2 separate regions of the Homo sapiens genome follow, and region 2 is linked to region 1. The links come from fine-mapping of genetic effects on gene expression. A gene starts in region 1. The other region holds a variant in brackets. All regions are shown on one strand. Distances are between the middles of the regions.

Region 1 (5,376 bases):
GAATCGCTTGAACCCGGGAAACGGAGGTTGCAGTGAGCCGAGGTCACGCCACTGCACTCCAGCCTGGGCGATAGAGCAAGACTCTGACTCAAAAAAAGGTAGGTAGATGACCTTTGGCAAGTTATGTGTATTAAGTACATTTTCAACTTATGAGTGGTATATCAGCACATCACCCCATTGTAAGTTGAGGAGCATCTGTACTCTATCCTAACCTTTATCATAAACCCATCTAGTGACTGCTTATTTACATGTCTATATTACCCACTAAATTTTCTGTGTACTGACATCGGGTTTTGTTCACAGCTATATTCCCCAGGGGCTAAGCACTGTCTGGCACATAAAAGCATTCATGAGTATTTGTTGATAGAATAGGTGAATGTAATCCTCTTTTTTTCTTTTGCTTGTTGTTGTTTTTAATAGACGGAGTGTTGTTCTGTTGCCCAGGCTGGAGTGCAGTGGCACAATCAGTGCTCACTGTAGCCTCAAACTCCTGGGCTCAAGCAAGCCTCCTACCTCCACCTTCTGAGTAGGTGGGGCCACAGGCCTGTGCTACCTGCTACCACTCCCAGCAGAATAAGTGAATGTAATATTCATCACAACAAATGAAGTATTATTTTTATGAGAACACTGAAACTCACTGAAATGATCTGTTCAAACAGATCAATCTAGAATCTTACTCTTTCATCTAGAAAGAGTAAGCTGACAATTGTACAACTGCACCCCAAATTGTGTTTGTTTGTTTCTTTCCTGAGACAGGGTCTCACTCTGTTGCTCTGGCTGGAGGGCAGTGGCAGGATCATGGCTCATTGCAGTCTCGACCTCCCAGGGCTCAGGTGATCCTCCCACCTCAGCCTTCCAAGTAGCTGGGACTACAGGGGCACCACCACGCAGGGGTAACTCTTTGTATTTTTGGGTAGAGACTGGGTTTTGCCATGTTACGCAGGCTGGTCTTGAACTCCTGGGCTCAAGCAATCCGCCTGCCTCAGCCTCCCACAATGCTGGGATTACAGCCATGAACCACCGGGGCCCAAATGCACTCCAAGTTTTTTACCCCCAGAACTCTCACTTCTTGGTGGGGGTTTGCGGGAAGCTTACCTGGGAACTAATGGCATACTTCAGGTAGGACAAGATGAGAGGATTGGGGGATGGTCCAATCATGGCCTGCTCTAGTAACGCATCTGCAAGAGGAATAGCAAAACACAACTGAGTGATTACAACTTCTCTGGGTTTATCCCTCCCATCTTTCTTTCCCAGTTCACTTGAGACCTGCCAGGTTGAGAATATCCCAGGTGGCTCCTTTAGGAAAGAATTTCTTCATGTTGATTGCCCATTGGTAGTCACTCCAGCGCTCCTTCCAGGCTTGCAAAATGGCTTGCTTCAGGTTGACCACCTTCATTATTTCACTCTGAGCAGGTGGCAGCGGTGGCGGCCAGCTTTGAGGTGAAAGAAATGGAGCTAAAGAAAAGGACATGAGGTTCTAAGGAGAACCGGGGAAGGCAGAATTAAATAGAAAGGAGAAGATGCGGGAAGATTTAAGCGAGACAGAGGAATTTGAAAGAAAAAGAGCTAAAGGGATAAAGTAAGATCCTGTCAGACTCTCTCCTCCTGAACCGCCCTTCCTTAAACTGGGGCACTAAGAAAGTATCGGCCGAGCGCAGTGGCTCGCACCTGTAATCCCAGCACTTCGGGAGGCAGAGGCGGGCGAATCACCGGAGGTCAGGAGTTCGAGACTAGCCTGACCAACATGGAGAAACCTCGTCTCCACTAAAAATACAAAATTAGCCGGGCTTGGTGGTGCATGCCTGTAATCCCAGCTACTCGGGAGGCTGAGGCAGTAGAATCGCTTGAACCCGGGAGGCGGAGGTTGTTGGGGTGAGCCGAGATCGCACCATTGCACTCCAGCCTGGGCAACAAGAGCAAAACTCCGTCTCTCAAATAAATGAATAAAGAAGTATCAAAGGGACTAATAGATTAAACAGGGCATCAAGGAGTTAAGGCAGTCCTGGTTGCCTAATTACGCCCTTAGCTCTAAAAGCGTCCCTTGGCCACCACCATTCCAAGTCCAGATTTGCTCCCTCATTTCCTCCACCTTCTCCAGCCCTGTAACTATACCTCCCAATTTCCTTTTCATCCACCACCTCCCCAAATTTAAGCCTACCGCACAATCCAGTTCTAGGTGGTAGGCATCGCCATTTTGGCACTTGTCAAGAAGCTCACTTTCTATTGGCTGGGAGTAACAAACGCCAACCAATAGAAATGCAGCAAGGAACGCCCCGCTGTCTTCTGGGAATGGTAGTTCCTTGGACTGAAACCGTATTTGTCTGCGCCGGCGAGGAAACTAAGGGACTCGTCTAGTCGGCCCGCATTGTTCTTCTCCTTTAAGGGAGGACATCCAGGAGCTGAGGCACTACAGAGACTCAGGGACTCGAGGGAGCTCGAAAGGCCGCTCACAACCCGGCGTCGCCCACGACGTCACTGTCGACCGGGCTTCTCCATCATATTCCGACACCCTTTCATTCGTTAGCCCCTAGTTAGTAGGTGCGGCAAGGGTGTGGCGTGGGGGCAAGGGTGTGGCGTTCAGCAATAAGGTCTTTCTCCTTTCCTGGGCTCTTTCTGTTCTCCTAAGCCCCTGGAGCTACCAGAGCTATTCTCATTTCCACAACTATATTCTAAAAGCGACACCGAGGTGCCTTAGTTGCACACATATCACCGTCCCCGAATCTTACAGTCCTATCAGAATCTCCAGGCCCTCCATACAGCTTGGATACAAGGGAAAGTAAAGAGGAAACTAAGGTGAAGGTGATCAAAATCAAAGGAATTCTGAGAAACTGTCACAACTAAGAGGGCTAAGGAGACCTGATGACTAAATGTAATGTGGTTTTCTGAATGCGATCATGGAAGAGAAAAAGAATACTGGGTAAAAACTAAGGAAATCTAAATAAAGGGTGGACTTTAATTAATAATAATGTATCAATATTAGTTCATTAGTTGTTACAAATGCATAATACTAATGCTAAGATGTTAATAAAAAGAGAAATTGGGTGCAGAATATGTGGGGACCCTCTATTACCTTCCATTTTTTTCCTGTAAATTAAAAACTTGTTTTTTTAAGTTTCTTGTTGTTGTTGTTGTTGTTGTTGTTTAAATCTTGCTTATCCCAAAGATCCATATATAAATTATGCCCAGGGCTTTGGCCATAGCCTTTCCTTCCCCCAGTGAGAAACCCGAAAGCAAATGTTACCCACCTCTGGAGGCTCCAATGTCTGAGCCTTCTTATGCATAGCCCTCATCCCTCCCCATGCTATGGACTGGTCATCCCTAACATTTACAACCAGGAATAAGAGTAAATTACTCGGGAGGCTGAGAAAGGAGGATCACTTGAGCTCGGGAGTTCAAATCCAGCCTGGGCAACATAATGAGACTCTCAGCTCTACCAAAATACATAAATAAATAAACATGGAGGCCTTTAGCCAGGGCCCAATATCCTAGTTCACAAGTTCAAGCTCAATCTGTATTCCTCAACAAAGATTCTTTTTTTTTTTTTTTTTGAGATGGAGGCTTGCTCTGTTGCCCAGGCTGGAGTGCAATGGCGCAGTCTCAGCTCACTGCAACCTCTGCCTCCCAGGTTTAAGCAATTCTCCTGCCTCAGCCTCCCAAGTAGCTGGGATTACAGGCGTGTGCCACCACATCCGACTAATTTTTGTATTTTTAGTAGAGACAGGGTTTCGCCATGTCGGCCAGGGTGGTCTCAAAATCCTGACCTCAGCCACCCACCTTGGCCTCCCAGAGTGCTAGGACTGTAGGCATGAGCCACCGTGCCTAGCCTCCAACAACCATTCTTTGCTCACCCTTTGAGTGGCAAAATCAGTCCTCGGGAGGATAAATCTGGGAGAGCAGCCCACTTAAGGCTCTGGAAGCAAAACTGTGGCCATTTGGGCAGAGAATTACAGCGCCCTGGGTGTCTGGAGAATGGTCTAAACAGGGAGTCAAGAACTTCTGTTCCAAAGGGGAGAGTGTGGCTGAAGGAGGGTCAGATCATGTCCTCCTGCGGTTGGTACTGCCTATGGCCTTTCTTCCTCCCCATACATTCAATCCACACCCCTCTCTTAGGCTCCCTTTGTGCCTGCCCAAGTGACACCATTGGGGAATAGTGTGTATACAAAACAGCTGCCAAATATATGTTGCCAAAGCTTCTAAAGCAGGAAGGAGGGAAATACGGATTCCTCACCTCACCTTCCAGATGACCCCCGGCCACTCCACTCATACTTGAGACTGCCACAAACCCTGCTTCTCCTCAGTCTCTCACATATCTGACTTCCCCTGTTCTCCCAGGCCCCTCACTCTACCTTTGCCTGCTCCCCTGCTGTCATTCTGTGCCTGTAGCCACAGCCTAAGGCCCTCCACCTGGAGCCATTCCTGGATCATCCTGGAGCCCCTGTCGCATACCTCAGAGCCCAAACTGCCTCTCTTGGAGAGAAGCTGTCAACTGTGTGTCCGGTCCACACAGGACTGGGGACTATTTGGGCCCTGAGGATGGTGATATTTTGAGCTCAAACCATTCCCTCTGGCAGGGAGCCTGGCAGATTTCTAGGGAGGTGCCTCCTCCCCACTTCGCAGTGACAGGGAGGCGGCTTTTGTAGTCAGGCCATCTGCCTTCTCTGTCTCCCCACCTCCCACCAGCAGCCCTTTCTCTAGGCTTGGCAAGGTTTCCCCAAAGGCTGGACTCCTATGTACAAAGGCTCCCTTAGCTCTGGGCAAGGACCATTTTTAGTTTATCCACTTTGACCTCCCTGCCTCTCTAGTCTGTAAACATCAGAGGCAGCCTTTCCTATATCACCTCTTCCTTCCACACCACAATATCTTCCTAGGGACCCCCTTGGGCTCTCTGGCTCACTGCAAGCACAGGACCGGGACCCCATGATAATCCTCCAAAGGGTGAAGAGAGATGCTAACATTTCCTTTGGGTGTACAAAAAAACAGCCCCCCAACCGGGCGCGGTGGCTCACACCTCTAATCCCTGCACTTTGGGAAGCCAAGGCAGGCAGATCACCTGGGGTTAGGAGTTCGAGACCAGCCTGACCAACATGGAGAAACCCCATCTCTACTAAAAAACAAAATTAGCCGGGCATGGTGGCGCATGCCTGTAATCCCAGCTGCTCGGGAGATGGAGGTAGGAGAATTGCTTGAACCCAGGAGGCGAAGGTTGCGGTAAGCTGAGATTGCACCATTGCACTCCAGCCTGGGCAACAAGAGCGAAACTTCGTCTCAAAAAAAAAAAAAAAAGCCCTCCAGCCCATCTCAAAGCCCCGTCCTACTTACCCCACTTTCTTTTGCTGTTCATTTCCTCTCAACAGGGACAGGGGCCGAACTCCCATC
Region 2 (5,376 bases), 220 kb after region 1:
GCCACTGCACTTCAGCCTGGGCAACACAGCAAGACGTTGTCCCAAAAAAAGGGTAAAGGTTATATCATTAAGTAGCAAGGCATTAAAAGTCCATTAACCTGTGTGCAGCTTCTTTGTTCAGTACATACAGATTTGTACTCTAGCAGCTGGCCATCTAACATAGGGCAGCCAAACAGTGGCCTACTGCATTCCTGATCCCATATCTCCCTAGCTTTAGCCATAATGAGGTAGTGCTAAGGTGGCCCTTGATTCTATAAAGTTCAGGTTTGACTTTTTTTTTAACTTAGGGATTTTACAAAAGACTCTTTGTCTGAGCAAAGCTCATATCTTTCTGACCTCATCCAGGAATAGAAGAAGAGAAAAATGCAATTTCCGTGGGTTGAGCTGAGCACTTTTAAATGTCTGCAGGCTTTCTTGCTTCCCACTTTTCCATTCTTTCTCTGTGGTAGCTAGGACTACAGGAGTGTTGCCACCATGTCTGGCTCATTAAAATTTTTTTTTATTTTTATTTTTTAAGATGAGGTCTGTGTTGCCCAGGCTGGACTCAAACTCTTGGGCTCAAGCCATCCTCCCACCTTGGCCTCCCGAAGCCCTGGGATTACAGATGTGAGCAATTGTACCTGGCTAGAGCAGCAATTCTTAAGAGTGATAAACCAGAAAAAAATTGAGATATTTTAGTCAGAGATCATTTGAGTATTGCCTCGATTTGTTGTGTGACATTGGACAGATCACTGATTCTCTTTTCTCACCGATTCTCTTTTCTCACCTGTAAAATGTACATTTGAAAAGTACAGTGGGGGTCAGGGACACAGGCTCACACTTGTAATCCTAGTGCTTTGGGAGGCTGAGGCAGGAGGATCGCTTGAGACGGAGTTCAAGACCAGCCTGGGCAACATGGTGAAACCCCATTACTACAAAAAATAAAAAAACTAGGCCGGGTGCAGTGGCTCACGCCTGTAATCCTAGCAATTTGGGAGGCTGAGACAGGCAGATCACCTGAGGTCAGGAGTTCAAGACCAGCCTGGCCAACATGGTGAAACCCCATCTCTCTACTAAAATACAAAAATTAGCCAGGCATGATGGCGGGTGCCTGTAATCCCAGCTACTCGAGAGGCTGAGACGGGAGAATCGCTTGAACCCGGGAGATTGTGGTTGCAGTGAGCTAAGATTGCACCACTGCACTCCAGCATGGGTGACTGAGCGAGACTCTGTCTCAAAAAATAAATAAATAAATAAATAAAAATAAATTTAAGAAACCTAGCCAGGCGTGGTAGCGTGTGCCTGTGGTCCCAGCTACTTGGGAGGCTAGGATGGGAGGATCACTTGAGCCCAGGAGGCAGAGGCTGCAGAGAGCTGAGATCACGCCACTGCACTCCAGCCTAGGCAGCAGAGCAAGACCCTGCCTCAAAACCCGCCCCCCCAAAACCCAAAAACTAGCATTATTGGTTCATAGAGTTTGTTTCAAGAATTTTTTCTTTGCAGAGTAAAACACTGTCTTTTTTTTTTTTTTTTTTTTTTGAGATGGAGTCTTGCTCTGTCGCCCAGGCTGGAGTGCAGTGGCGCGATCTCGGCTCACTGCAAGCTCCACCTCCCAGGTTCACGCCATTCTCCTGCCTCAGCCTCCCGAGTAGCTGGGACTGCAGGCACCCGCTACCATACCCGACTAATTTTTTTGTATCTTTAGTAGAGATGGGGTTTCACCATGTTAGCCAGGATGGTCTCTATCTCCTGACCTTGTGATCCGCCTGCCTTGGCCTCCCAAAGTGCTGGGATTATAGGCATGAGCCACTGCACCCGCCAACACTGTCCATTTTTAAGGGAATTTGAGAAAAATAGAAACCATCATACTTTTCTCAAAATTAGGGTTAATCTTGGATTACAAAAGCCTGTCTCCCATCCCAGGACTTCTTTTGGAAATTGTTTTTTAGGGACTGGAGTTCTGGCTCTGTCACTTGAAACAGTCTTAAAACTGGATCTGGGGCCGGGTGCGGTGGCTCATGCCTGTAATCCCAGCACTTTGGGAGGCTGAGGC[G/A]GGCAGATCATGAGGTCAGGAGATTGAGACCATCCTGGCTAACACGGTGAAACCCTGTCTCTCTACTAAAAATACAAAAATGAGCCGGGCGTGGTGGCGGGTGCCTGTAGTCCCAGCTACTGGGGAGGCTGAGGCAGGAGAGTGGCATGAACCCGGGAGGCGGAGCTTGCAGTAAGCCGAGATCGTGCCACTGTACTCAAGCCTGGGGGACAGAGCGAGACTCCGTCTCAAAAAAAAAAAAAAAAAAGAAAAATAACTGGATCTGACAAAGAGCCCAGAAGCTTATTGGAGACAGCAGAACCTGGCTGGGATGAGGGAGGGAGCTGGAGAAGCCAAACAGATCACTCTTACCCTGCTCTATTTTGCCATTCCAGGTCGTCTCATCGCTGTCACCTGCCTGGTGTCTAGCTGGTGTCGGTGTCCTTGTGAACCTGGCTAACCCTGTTTACCTTGCTGCCCTGGCCTAGGAGTAGATACAAATTCTCAGGGCCTTGAGGAATCTGGGTTTTAGGGAATATTTTTGAGGGCTTAAAGAAGCTTCTATTCTTAAAGAGCTTTAGTTTGAGTAGATTTGGAATCAAAACAAGGCTCAGAGATCTGCTGGGAGTTACAAGATTTCTCTTTAATTATTGCATCTAGTGTCCCCTGTTTCTACTGAACAAAGCTTGGAAACAGTGAGGAAGAGTTGACATTCTGAGTGTGTCTTACGGGAAGCAAAAACATTTATTGGGCTTATTGTGCCAGATTGTGTGTGTGTGTGTGTGTATGTTATTCTATTACTGTGTTACATGCTTAACTATAGTCACTACAGCAATTCTGATAGTAATCAGGAGGAATAATAAGATACTCTTTTCTTTGAGACAGTCTTGCTGTGTCACCAGGCTGGAGTGCAGTGGCGCGATGTTGGCTTATTGCAGCCTCCATCTCCCAGGTTCAAGCTCCTCCCACCTCAGGCTCCAGAATATCTGGGATTGCAGGCGTGTGCCACCACGCTTGGCTAATTTTTGTACTTTTTTAAAATTTGAGGTGAGGTTTCATCATGTTGCCCAGGCTGATCTCGAACTCCTGGCATCAAGCAATCTGCCTGCCTCAGCCTCCCAGAGTGTTGGGATTACAGATGTGAGCCACTATGCCTAGCCAAGATACCGTTTTACTACTAAAAACAGTTTTGTCTGTTAAGCTGAGTAGTCTCTTCACATACTATTTAGGTCACAACTATTTATTGGGCCACGTGCTGTGGCACATGCCTATAATCCCAGCCCTTTGCTGAGGCGGGAGCATTGCTTGAGCCCAGGAGTTTGAAGCTGCACTGAGCTATGATTCCACCACTGCGCTTTAACCTGGGTGACAGAGTGAGACCCTGTCTCTTAAAAAAAAAAAAAAATTGAACATGGCCTAGATACCAAAAGATGCACTTCCAAGCCACTGGATTGTAAATCTGGTTGGGAAGATACTATGCAGAATACTGGGAGTTACGAAAAGCAGTGTGGGAGAGTAGAAAGAGCAGACATGTGCCTTGCCTATTTTTATTTGATCTGTGACCTTAAACAAATAACCTGAGTCCCAGTTTTCTCATTTGTGAAATGGGGATAATATTACATACTTCGCATGTGTGGCTATAAGACTTTTTAAAGATTTAATACACCGAAAATGCCTGGAACATAATAGATACCCAATAAATGGTAGCTGCTATTATTGTTAGTTAATACAGAGCATAGGAGTAAGACAAACACGTTAGAATCTATTATATTCCAGTCATATTGCCATTTCTTGACACATGCTTTTGACGTTACCTTCTACTTGGTGGCAAATTTTCATCTTTTAAGAGTGAATTTGATTTTTGGAATCACCAAAAAGCAGATTCAGACATAGGTATGAACATTTTCTTTTTTTTTTTTTTGAGGCAGAGTTTTGTTCTTGTTGCCCAGGCTGGAGTGCAATGGCACGATCTTGGATCACCGCAACCTCCGCCTCTTGGGTTCAAGCAATTCTCCTGCCTCAGCCTTCCGAGTAGCTGGGATTACAGGCATGCACCACCACATCTGGCTAATTTTTGTATTTTAATAGAGACTGGGTTTCTCCATGTTGATCAGGCTGGTCTCGAACTCCCGACCTCAGGTGATCCTCCCGCCTCGGCCTCCCAAAGTGCTGGGATTACAGGCGTGAGCCACCGTGCCTGGCATAGGTATGAATATTTTCATTGGTGATGGTGGTGGGGCGACCTCAGAAATGAAATGTGACCATCATATAATAGTGTTTACAGCTCTGACTGATAAACTTGCTTTGGAGGCAATTCCAAAAGAGGTGTTTGCAGTGTTTGAGCAATGAGACTGTTACTGGACATATGTAACTTCCCACAATGAATCTGCTGTATATATTTTGAAAATCGCTCATTGATATTAGAGTAAGTGACATAGCCTGTATATGCTGTGGGAGAGCAGAGGTGGAGGGACTCAGAAGAAAATGGATTGCTTTGGGAAAGCCTTGAGAAGATGGGACTTGGATTGAACCTTGAAGGGTAGGGAGGATTTGGTAGTAAGGGAAGGGGGGATATCAGAATATTGTGAGGGGAGTCACAAGAGCAAAGCATATAATTTGGTTTATTCAGCAAACATTGATTGAGCACCTGCTGTGTGCTGTACATTTGGCTGAACTTGGGAACCCAGAAGGAGGAACTGCTCTGACATCAAGGGGTACACAGTATACTGGGGAAAGAGCACACAGAATAAATAATTATAATAGTCTATTCAAGTGGTAGGTATGCACAAGCTGCAGTGGAAGTGCAGAGGAGGGCTCCTAACCTAGCCTAGCAATAAGAAGGGAAGAGGAGAAGCCAAGCTCAAGCTGATTGGTGTGGTAGGTTACTATGTAAGCAAAGGCTTTGAGACTTTATTTTTTTACTTATTTATGTATTTGAGATGGAGTCTCTCTCTGTTGCCCAGGCTGGAGTGCAGTGGCACAATCTGGGCTCACTGCAACCTCCACCTCCCAGGTTCAAGTGATTCTTGTGCCTCAGCCTCCTGAGGAGCTGGGACTACAGGCACACGCCACCACACCGGGCTAATTTTTTGTATTTTTAGTAGAGATGGAGTTTCATCATGTTGCCCAGGCTGGTCTCCAACTGCTGAGCTCAGGCAATCCTCCCGCCTCGGCCTCCCAAAGTGCTAGGATTATAGACGTGAGCCATCACACCCAGCCACAGTTTGAGACTTTATGATTTAGGCAGTGCAAAGCCTTTGAAAAAACTGGATCAAGTTTTTAGGGAGGTTGGTGAGTTGGTGTTATGCAAAATGAATTTGGAGGGGTAAGAGACAAAGCAAGGAGAACATTCGGAAGGCTTTTGC

Direction of the effects. Positions count from the first base shown, and alleles are read on the strand shown. Sizes are in standard deviations (SD) of each study's normalised expression.
With allele G in place of A in region 2, the expression in caudate of the gene that starts at base 2,206 in region 1 is lower (large effect, 0.86 SD a copy in GTEx).

Evidence for each region. PIP is the estimated chance that this variant, and not a neighbour inherited with it, causes the effect. A credible set is the group of variants that fine-mapping cannot tell apart.
Region 2: its variant is the best candidate, but not a certain one, in a credible set for the expression of MED24 in caudate (GTEx, PIP 0.60).

The regions. Positions count from the first base shown.
Region 1 is chr17:40,052,203-40,057,578 of GRCh38, forward strand. It overlaps MED24 (mediator complex subunit 24), which reads right to left and starts at 2,206. Exons shown (of 26, transcript NM_014815.4): 1 at 2,159-2,206; 2 at 1,267-1,433; 3 at 1,096-1,178. The coding sequence starts at 1,396. RefSeq lists an enhancer at 2,406-2,465.
Region 2 is chr17:40,268,105-40,273,480 of GRCh38, forward strand. All of the region lies in intron 5 of WIPF2 (WAS/WASL interacting protein family member 2), which reads left to right. Among named protein-coding and RNA genes, the nearest start is that of CDC6, 17 kb to the right of the region's middle. The variant G/A (reference allele first, on the strand shown) is at 2,033.